Linked DNA regions of Homo sapiens: region 1 is linked to region 2. The links come from fine-mapping of genetic effects on gene expression. A gene starts in region 2. The other region holds a variant in brackets. All regions are shown on one strand. Distances are from middle to middle. Region 1 overlaps GRAMD1C (GRAM domain containing 1C). Region 2 holds the start of GRAMD1C (GRAM domain containing 1C).

Region 1 (4,366 bases), 49 kb before region 2:
CTTAGCTGGGGAGTAGGGAGGAGAGGAGGCTAAGTTCCCACCTGCCAGCTTCAAAGAAAGAAACTTTCTTGTCTGGGTGGAGGCTCACACCAGTAATCCCAGTACTTTGGGAGGCCGAGGCAGGCAGATCACCTGAGGTCGGGAGTTCGAGACCAGCCTGACCAACATGGAGAAACCCTGTCTCTACTAAAAATACAAAATTAGCCAGGCTCAGTGGCGCATGCCTGTAATCCCAGCTACTCGGGAGGCTGAGGCAGGAGAATCACTTGAACCTAGGAGACAGAGGTTGCAGTGAGCCGAGATCGCCATTGCACTCTAGCCTGGGCAACAAGAGCAAAACTCCATCTCGAAAAAAAAAAAAAGAGGCTTTCTTATCTGCAGGAAATCTCTACTGTTCCCCTTAAACCATTTCTTTTAACAGCAGCTTTACTGTGCTATAATTCACATACCTGAAAATTCATCCCTCTAAGTGTACAATTCAGGCGGTTTTCACATATCCAAAGTTAAACAACCATCACCGCTAATTTCAGGACACGTTGTCAACCCAGAAAGATAACTGACTCCATCAGCTGTCACTTCTCATTACTCCCTCCTCCAGGCAATAACTTTACTATTTCTGTTTCTATGAACTTGCCTATTCTAAACATTTCATAAGAACAGAATCCTACAGGATGTGTTCTTTTATGACTGGCGTCTTTCACTTAGCATTATGTTTTCAAGGCTCATCCATGTTGTAGCATGTATCACTACTTCACTACATTTTATTACTGAATGATATTCCACTGTGTGGATATACGTTTTTTTTTAGAAGGAGTTTTGCTCTTACTGCCCAGGCTGGAGTGCAATAGCGCGATTTCGGCTCACTGCAACCTCTGCCTACCCGGTTCAAGTGATTCTCCTGCTTCAGCCTCCCGAGTAGCTGGGATTACAGGCATGTGCCACCACGCCCGGCTAATTTGTATTTTTAGTATAGATGGGGTTTCTTCCATATTGGTCAGGCTGGTCTCGAACTCCCGACCTCAGGTGACCTGTCCGCCTCAGCCTCCCAAAGTCTGGGATTACAGGCATGAGCCACCACACCAGGTCATACATTTTATTTATACATTAATCACTTGATGGACATTTGGATTGTTTCTACTTTTTGGCTATTATGAATAATAAATGCTGCTATGAACATTGGGGTACAAGTTTTTGCAAGAACAGATCTATGGTAAACATTTTGAGGAGCTGCCAAACTGTTTTTCAAAGTGGCTGCATCATTTTACAATCTTTCCAACAATGTACTTGAGGGATCCACTTTCTCCACATCCTCAACAGCATTTGTATTTAAAAAATTTTTTTTCAGCTTTACTGAAGTATAATTAACAAATAGGAATGGTACATATTTAAGGTATACAACTTGATGTTTTGATATGCATATACATTGTGGTCGCCACAATCAGGTTAATTAACATATCCATTGCCTCATGTAGTTATCATTTGCTTGCTTGCCTTCTTTCTTTTTTTGTACTGGTGAAAAAACTTAAGATCTACTCTATTAGCAAATTTCAAGTATACAACACAGTATTGTTAACTGTAGTCAGCATGGTGCACATTTGATCTCCAGTACTCATTCATCTTGCATAAATGAAACTTTGTATCCTTTAACCAACATCTCCCCATTTCTTCCTACCCCTGGCAACTACCACTTTACTCTCTGCTTTGAGTTCAACTTGTATAAATTCTACTTGATAATAGTATATACCTTTTCATACATTGCTGGATTTGATTTGCTAATATTTTGTTGAGGATTTTTGTGTCATTGTTCATAAGGGATACTGGTCCAGAGTTTTCTTGTGGTGATGTCTGGTTTTGGTATCAAGGTAATACTGTACTCATAGATAAAGTTGTGAAGTGTTCCCTCTATTTTTAGAATACTGGGTGAAGGATTGGTGTTAATTCTACTGTAAACAGTTGGTTCACCAATGAAGCCACCTGGGCCTGGGCTTTTCTCTGTGGTAGGTTCTTTATCATTAATTCAATCTCTTTTCTTGTTATAGGTCTATTCAAATTCTCTATTTCTACTTGAGTCAGTTTTTGTAGTTTGTGACTTTCTAAGTACTTATCCATTTCATTTAGGGTAAATAATTTGTTGGCATACAATTATTCATAATATTTCCTTATAATTTTCTTATTTTTATAAGGTTAGTAGTATTGTCACCACTTTCAGTCCTAAATTTTACAATTGTAGTCTTCTTTTTTTCTTGGTTGATCTAGCTAAAGGTTTGTCAATTTTCCTTTTTTTTTTTTTTTTTTTTGGAGAC[G/A]GAGTCTCGCACTTTCACCCAGGTTGGAGTGCAGTGGAGCAATCTCGGCTCACTGCAAGCTCCACCTCCTGGGTTCACGCCATTCTCCTTTCTCCTGCCTCAGCCTCCCGAGTAGCTGGGACTACAGGTGCCCTACCACCATGCCCGGCTAATTTTTTGTATTTTTAGTAGAGACGGGGTTTCACCATGTTAGCCAGGATGGTCTCGATCTCCTGACCTCGTGACCCACCCACCTCGGCCTCCCAAAGTGCTAGGATTACAGGCGTAAGCCACAGTGCCCGGCCTCATTTTTTATAAAGAAGCAACTTTTGGGCTGGGTGTGGTGGCTCACACCTGTAATCCCGGCACTTTGGGAGGCCAAGGTGGGTGAAACACCAGAGGTCAGAAGTTAGAGGCCAGCCTGACCAATATGGTGAAACCCCACCTCTACTAAAAATACCAAAAATTAGCTGGGTGTGGTGGCAGGCGCCTGTAGTCCCAGCTACTTGGGAGGGTGAGGCAGGAGAATCGCTTGCACCTGTGAGACGGAGGTTGTCTGAGATTGTGCCACCACTGCACTCCAGCCTGGGCGACAGAGTGAGACTCTATCTCAAAAAAAAAAAAAAACAAAAAAAAAACAAAAAGGCCAGGCGCAGTGGCTCATGCCTGTAATCCCAGCACTTTGGGAGGCCAAGGCAGGCGGATCACGAGTTCAGGAGATTGAGACCATCCTGGCCAACATGGCGAAACCCCATCTCTACTAAAAATACAAAAATTAGCTGGGCGTGGTGGCGCATGCCTATAATCCCAGCTACTCAGGAGGCTGAGGCAGGAGAATCCCTTGAACCAGGGAGTTGGAGGTTGCAGTGAGCCGAGATCAGGCCACAGCACTCTAGCCTGGTGACAGAGTGAGACTCCATCTCAAAAAAAAAAAAAAAAAAAAAAACAAGCAAACAAACAAAAAAAAACAACTTTTGGTTCTGAATTGTCTATTTTTCTATTCTTTACTTCATTCATTTCTGTTATAATCTTTATTATTTCCTTGCTTCTTCTTGCTTTGCATTTAGTTTGCTGTCCTTTTTCTAATTTATTTTTTTTTCAAAGTTATAATGTGTGGTTTAAAAGAGAGGAAAGGAAAAAAGACACAAAGCTGGTTACAGGTCTGAGGGAGTCTAAGGAGAGAAAAATAGAAGGAAAGTAAAGAGGGGAAAAATTTAGGGAAAATCCAGTGGCCCAAAATCCCAGTATCCCACCCACAGCCCAGCCCTTGGAGCAGGAGTGAAGAATTAGATCAGTTTTGTACAAGAGTTTTTTAAAAAAATCGAATCACAACAAAGCTGACTTGGCTTCTCTTTGAGCCTCCTGGATCACCGTACGTCTGTCACTCTGGCCAGTCCTGCCTCTTCACAAACACTGATTCGGCTCCCCTAGGCTTCCACCTGTGTCCCAGTCTGGGGTTTCCATGGAGTGTGAACATGAAGTTAAGAGTGAGGCTGCTTCAGAGCCCCCAGCCCATGTGTCCATCCAGACTCCAAGTGGAGTGTAGGGCTCCCAGGGCAGAGAGGGGTGGGAGGGGCAGACCCTGCCCAGGCAGTCCTCACATTGGACAGGGCATCAGATGGCATCCCAAGGGCTCGCCATCCCTTTCCCCCCCGCCCCCCCACCCCAACCCAAGTGGAGGGGGATTAGCTGTCACCAGAGCCGATGTTGGTGAAGGTTTCGGCTCAGCACAGAATGAACGTCAGCGGTGAACCTGAGGGCATCCAGCATCGGGAGCAGGTTGAGAAGGGCTGTGTCGCTGGGGTCACTGAACCAGGATTTGATGGGGATGGCATTGTCTGGATGGCTCCTGTAAGCCCCTAGGGAGTTATCCAGGATCACAATGCTGGAGAGGTCACTGTGGACCACAGAGAGGTCCTTGATGTAGCTGCTCAACTGCAAAGTGCAGTGCTGTCTGTAATATCTCCTCTTAAGGATGCTTCTGCTATTGTCCAGTTTACCTGCCACAGCAAAGCCATAGATCTCCATGCTTTCTGTAAACACCACCAGCTCGTACCACTGGCTCACCACTTCCAGGAAGAAAT
Region 2 (4,393 bases):
TTGCCATCATACACAGCCTTTACAGGAAAGATCTTAACTGCATCAAATTTTCTCCAGGAGCACAAGTATAACATTCCATTGATGACATCCTCCCCTGAGGACAGTCTTTTGACATACTCACAAAGGAGCTCACAAAAGGAGGATGGGCTATTGTGCCACACATAGTGTAAGGCCTACCACCTTGGTTAAATTTCTGAAAATAATTTGGTCTCTGTCACCCAGGCTGGAGTGCAATGGCACAAACAGGGGTCACTGCAGTCTCAACCTCCTGTGCTCAAGTGATCTTCCTATCTCAGCCTCCCAAATAGCTAGGACCACAGGCGCCACACAACCATGCCCAGTTAATTTTTCTTTCTTTTTTTTTTTTATTTTGGTAGATACAGGGTCTTGCTTTGTTGCCCAGGCTGGTCTCAAATTCCTGTCCTCAAGCGATACTTCTTTCTGCCTTGGCCTCCCAAAGTGCTAGAATTACAGGCATGAGCCACTGCACTGGGCCACAATGGCTGACTTAAATTCAAATTCAAATTCAAATGGTGCAGGTCAGTCATCAAACATCAAGGGTGAAAAAAAGACCTGGAGCCAGTTTTTTCCTGAGGCTCTCTTAAGCCATTTTAGTGCTGCTTGAGAGGCCTGCCTTGCTCTCCCTGGAGACCTTAATTATGTAAGTAAAAGACTTTTTCAGGGCCGGGCGCGGTGGTGGCTCAAGCCTGTTATCCCAGTACTTTGGGAGGCCGAGGCGGGCGGATCATGAGGTCAGGAGTTCAAGACCATCCTGGCTAACACGGTGAAACCCCGTCTCTACTAAAAACACAAAAAATTAGCCGGGCGTGGTGGCGGGCGCCTGTAGTTCCAGCTACTGGGGAGTCTGAGGCAGAAGAATGGCGTGAACCCGGGAGGCAGAGCTTGCAGTGAGCCGAGATTGCGCCACTGCACTCCAACCTCAGGGTGTGTGTGTGGCATCATCAGTTTCTACTCCAACCTCATGGTGTGTGTGTGGCATCATCAGTTTCTACACCTGAATCAAATTTGGGATGGGGGTCCATTCTGGCTTTCTGGGGTGGCTACAGTAGATTCCTGTCTCTCTGACTTATTAGCTGTGTGGTCCTTAGCAAAGTCAATCTCTGTACATCTGTTCCTTAACTCTACAATAGAGGAAATAATTTTATCTCTAGTCTAGACAATAAGCTTATTGAGAGCAGGGATCATGTCTGTGTTAATCACCATCTAATCCCGAACACCCAGTGCCAGGGACATAACTGAATCAGTGACTGATTGGGTTCATGAATATCCAGCTTGACTATTTCATAGTAATGTTTTTCAAATCAAGTGAAATAACACTCATTCATCTGTTCATTCAACAATTATTTGTGTACCTCCACTAATCTGTAAACTATAACGCTCTTCAGAAGATATAGCACTGACCGCAGTTCTCTAAAAGTAAAATACATACACACAAACCAATGTAGAAGGAGGATGGTGTTCAGAAACGCAGGCGCCCGTCCAACAAAAGCGGGGTTTCATCCTGAATATTAATAAGCACGCTTTCCGTTTTGTCAAATAAGGTAGTAAACAAATAAAACTAGACTAGTTGAAATCAAAAACTTGGCTGACAGCACAGTGATTTAAACTATCCGGACCTTTACAACAGGGCTGAGAATGAAAGGAAGGGGGCAAGGCTGGAAAAAACGTTGACAGTGGGTCAGAATCACGACCATGGGGCCTGACCCAAGGGGGCCTGGGGCTGAGACATCCGCACCAGGACATTTCGGGACCAAATTCAAGCCCTCAACGCCCACAGGGAAGCAAATGTCCCCACCACCGCCCGTAGGGAAAGGGCTCGCAGAGGCACAGGAAACCGTTTCCTCGGTAACAACTTTCCGTATTACTCCAAAGAGCACGAAGAAAAGGGAAGGGAGGGATTAACTGTAATCTGAGAAGGTTCAAGCAATCACCGTGAGAAAAAGTAGGCTAAAGCCACAGATGGGAACCTGCCCCAGCGAGGCCCGCGGCTTACCTGACGGACAGTCGGAGCGCCCTCCATCGCGGCTCCCTCCGCCGCCGCGGCACCGCCCCGCGCGCACCGCACCGCACCGCCCCGCGCCCACCTCCAGCGCGCGCTGCGAGTTACAGGCTCCGCGCGCCTCCTCCGCCGGCCCTCCGAGTACTTCCAGCCGCAGCTCCTTGCGCCCTCTGGCGGCCGTGAAGGATTCCTGACGATGGGTGTTACCGGGTTAGCCTGAAGGCTTGTCTTTCTAGGGGTCACAATGAGACTTCCCTATTCCCAACCTCAAACTACTGTGCCTCCCAGGAAATGGCATACCCTGCCCCAATGTGCGAAAAGGTGAATTGCTCGGAAACTTTTTTTTTTTTTTTTTGAGACGGAGTTTCGCTCTCATTCCTCAGGCTGGATGGAGTGCCAAGGCCCCGTCTCGGCTAACTGCAACCTCCGCCTCCCAGTTCAAGCGATTCTCCTGCCTCAGCCTCCCGAGTAGCTGTGGTTACAGGCGCCTGCCACCACGCCCGGATAATTTTTGTATTTTTAGTAGAGACAAGGTTTCACCATGTGGGTCAGGCTGGTCTCGAACTCCCCACCTCAGGCAATCCGCTGGCCTTGGCCTCCCAAAGTGCTGGGATTACAGGCGTCAGCCACCGCCCCCGGCCAGGAAACTCTTGTTCCTTCCAATAAAGGATTGAAGTTACTGATTAACTGCTGTACGTATTGCAGATTCTTGGTTCTGTAAACCAAAAATAAAATGCCGAGGCCCACCCCCAGCCATCTAAATGGACCCCTCCTCTTGGCCAAGAGCGTTCCAAATTTAACCTGAAAATCTAGTTCAGGCCATGATGAAAGAGGGGATTGGACATGCCTCATTAACATCAACACAGACCTTAAGTCTGAGAAGAAATATTTATCATCTATTGCCTCGGACACCTGCTACTTGGAGGCTGCATCTGCATGATAAAACCTTGGTATCCACAACCCCTTATCCTAACCCAGACATTCCTTTCTACTGATAATAACTCTTTTTTCTCTTTTTCTTTTGAGACAGGTTCTGGCTCTATTAGACCAGCTGGAGTGCGGTGGCGCAATCTCTGCTCACTGCAACCTCCACCTCCCGGACTCAACCAATCCTCCCACCTCAGCCTCTCGAGTAGCTGGGACTACTGGCGTGTGCCACCATGCTTAACTACTTTGTTTGTTTGTTTGTTTGTTTGTTTGTTTGTTTTTTGAGACAGGGTTTCGCCATGTTGCCCAGACTGGTCTCGAACTCCTGGACTCAAGCAGTCTGCCCCCTTCGGCCTCCCAAAGTGCTGGGATTACACGTGCAAGCCACAGCTCCCAGTCAATAATAACGCTTTCAACCAATTGCAAATCAGAAAATTTTTTTATGTACCAATGACCTGAAAGTTCCTCCTTCTCGCCTTGGAGCTGTCTCCCCTTCCAGATTGAAACAATGTAAATCTTACATGTATTGATTGATGTATTAGGTCTGCCCAAAATATATAAAAGCAAGCTGTACCCCAACCACCTTGGACACATGTCATTGGGACTTCCTGAGACTGTGTCACAGGTGTGTCCTTAACCTTCACAAAATAAATTTTCTAAATTAACTGAGGCCTGTCTCAGATATTTGGGGTTCAGAGTTCCCAACCAAACAGCTATAAAAAAGACATTCTAAGCCAGGCACAGTGGCTAACTCATGTAATTCCAGCACTTTGGGAGACTAAGGTGGGAGGGTTGCTTGTGTCCAGGAGTTCAAGACCAGCCTGGGCAAAACAGGGGGGCCCCATCTCCAGAAAAGAGAGACAGAGAGAGAGAAAGAAAGAGAGAGAGAGGGAAGGAAGGAAGGAAGGAAAGAAGGAAGGAAGGGAGGGAGGGAAGACATTCTAGAACAATTGAGGAATAGTGAATATGAAATGGCTATTAGAGTTGATGTTACAGGATAATTAATGATTTATGTATACATTTATGGATATTCATTTATGGATAATTAATAATTTTTGGCAGCTGGGCGTGGTGGCTCAAGCCTGTAATCCCAGCACTTTGGGAGGCTGAGGTGGGAGGATCACCTGAGGTCAGGAGTTTGAGACCAACCTGGCCAACATGGTGAAACCCTGTCTCTACTAAAAATACAAAAATTAGTCGGGCGTGATGGTGAGCACCTGTAATCTCAGCTACTTGGGAGGCTGAGGCAGGAGAATCGCTTGAACCTGGAAAGTGGAGGCTGCAGGGAGCCGAGATCAGGCCATTGCACTCCAGCCTGGGCAAGAAGAGTGAAACTCCGTCTCAAATAATAATAATAAATAATAATAATAATAATAACTTGTGGCTATGTTGCAGGGTGTCTTTAATATTAGAAAACTCACACTAAAATATTTAGGAGTTCCCTGT

Evidence for each region. PIP is the estimated chance that this variant, and not a neighbour inherited with it, causes the effect. A credible set is the group of variants that fine-mapping cannot tell apart.
Region 1: its variant is the best candidate, but not a certain one, in a credible set for the expression of GRAMD1C in whole blood (TOPMed, PIP 0.61).

What each region holds. Positions count from the first base shown.
Region 1 is chr3:113,885,640-113,890,005 of GRCh38, reverse strand. The region is part of intron 6 of GRAMD1C (GRAM domain containing 1C); the gene reads right to left. It also overlaps the pseudogene CTDNEP1P1. Among named protein-coding and RNA genes, the nearest start is that of GRAMD1C, 49 kb to the right of the region's middle. The variant G/A (reference allele first, on the strand shown) is at 2,304.
Region 2 is chr3:113,836,558-113,840,950 of GRCh38, reverse strand. GRAMD1C (GRAM domain containing 1C) reads right to left here and starts at 2,163. Exons shown (of 18, transcript NM_017577.5): 1 at 2,015-2,163. The coding sequence starts at 2,041. RefSeq lists a silencer at 1,951-2,150.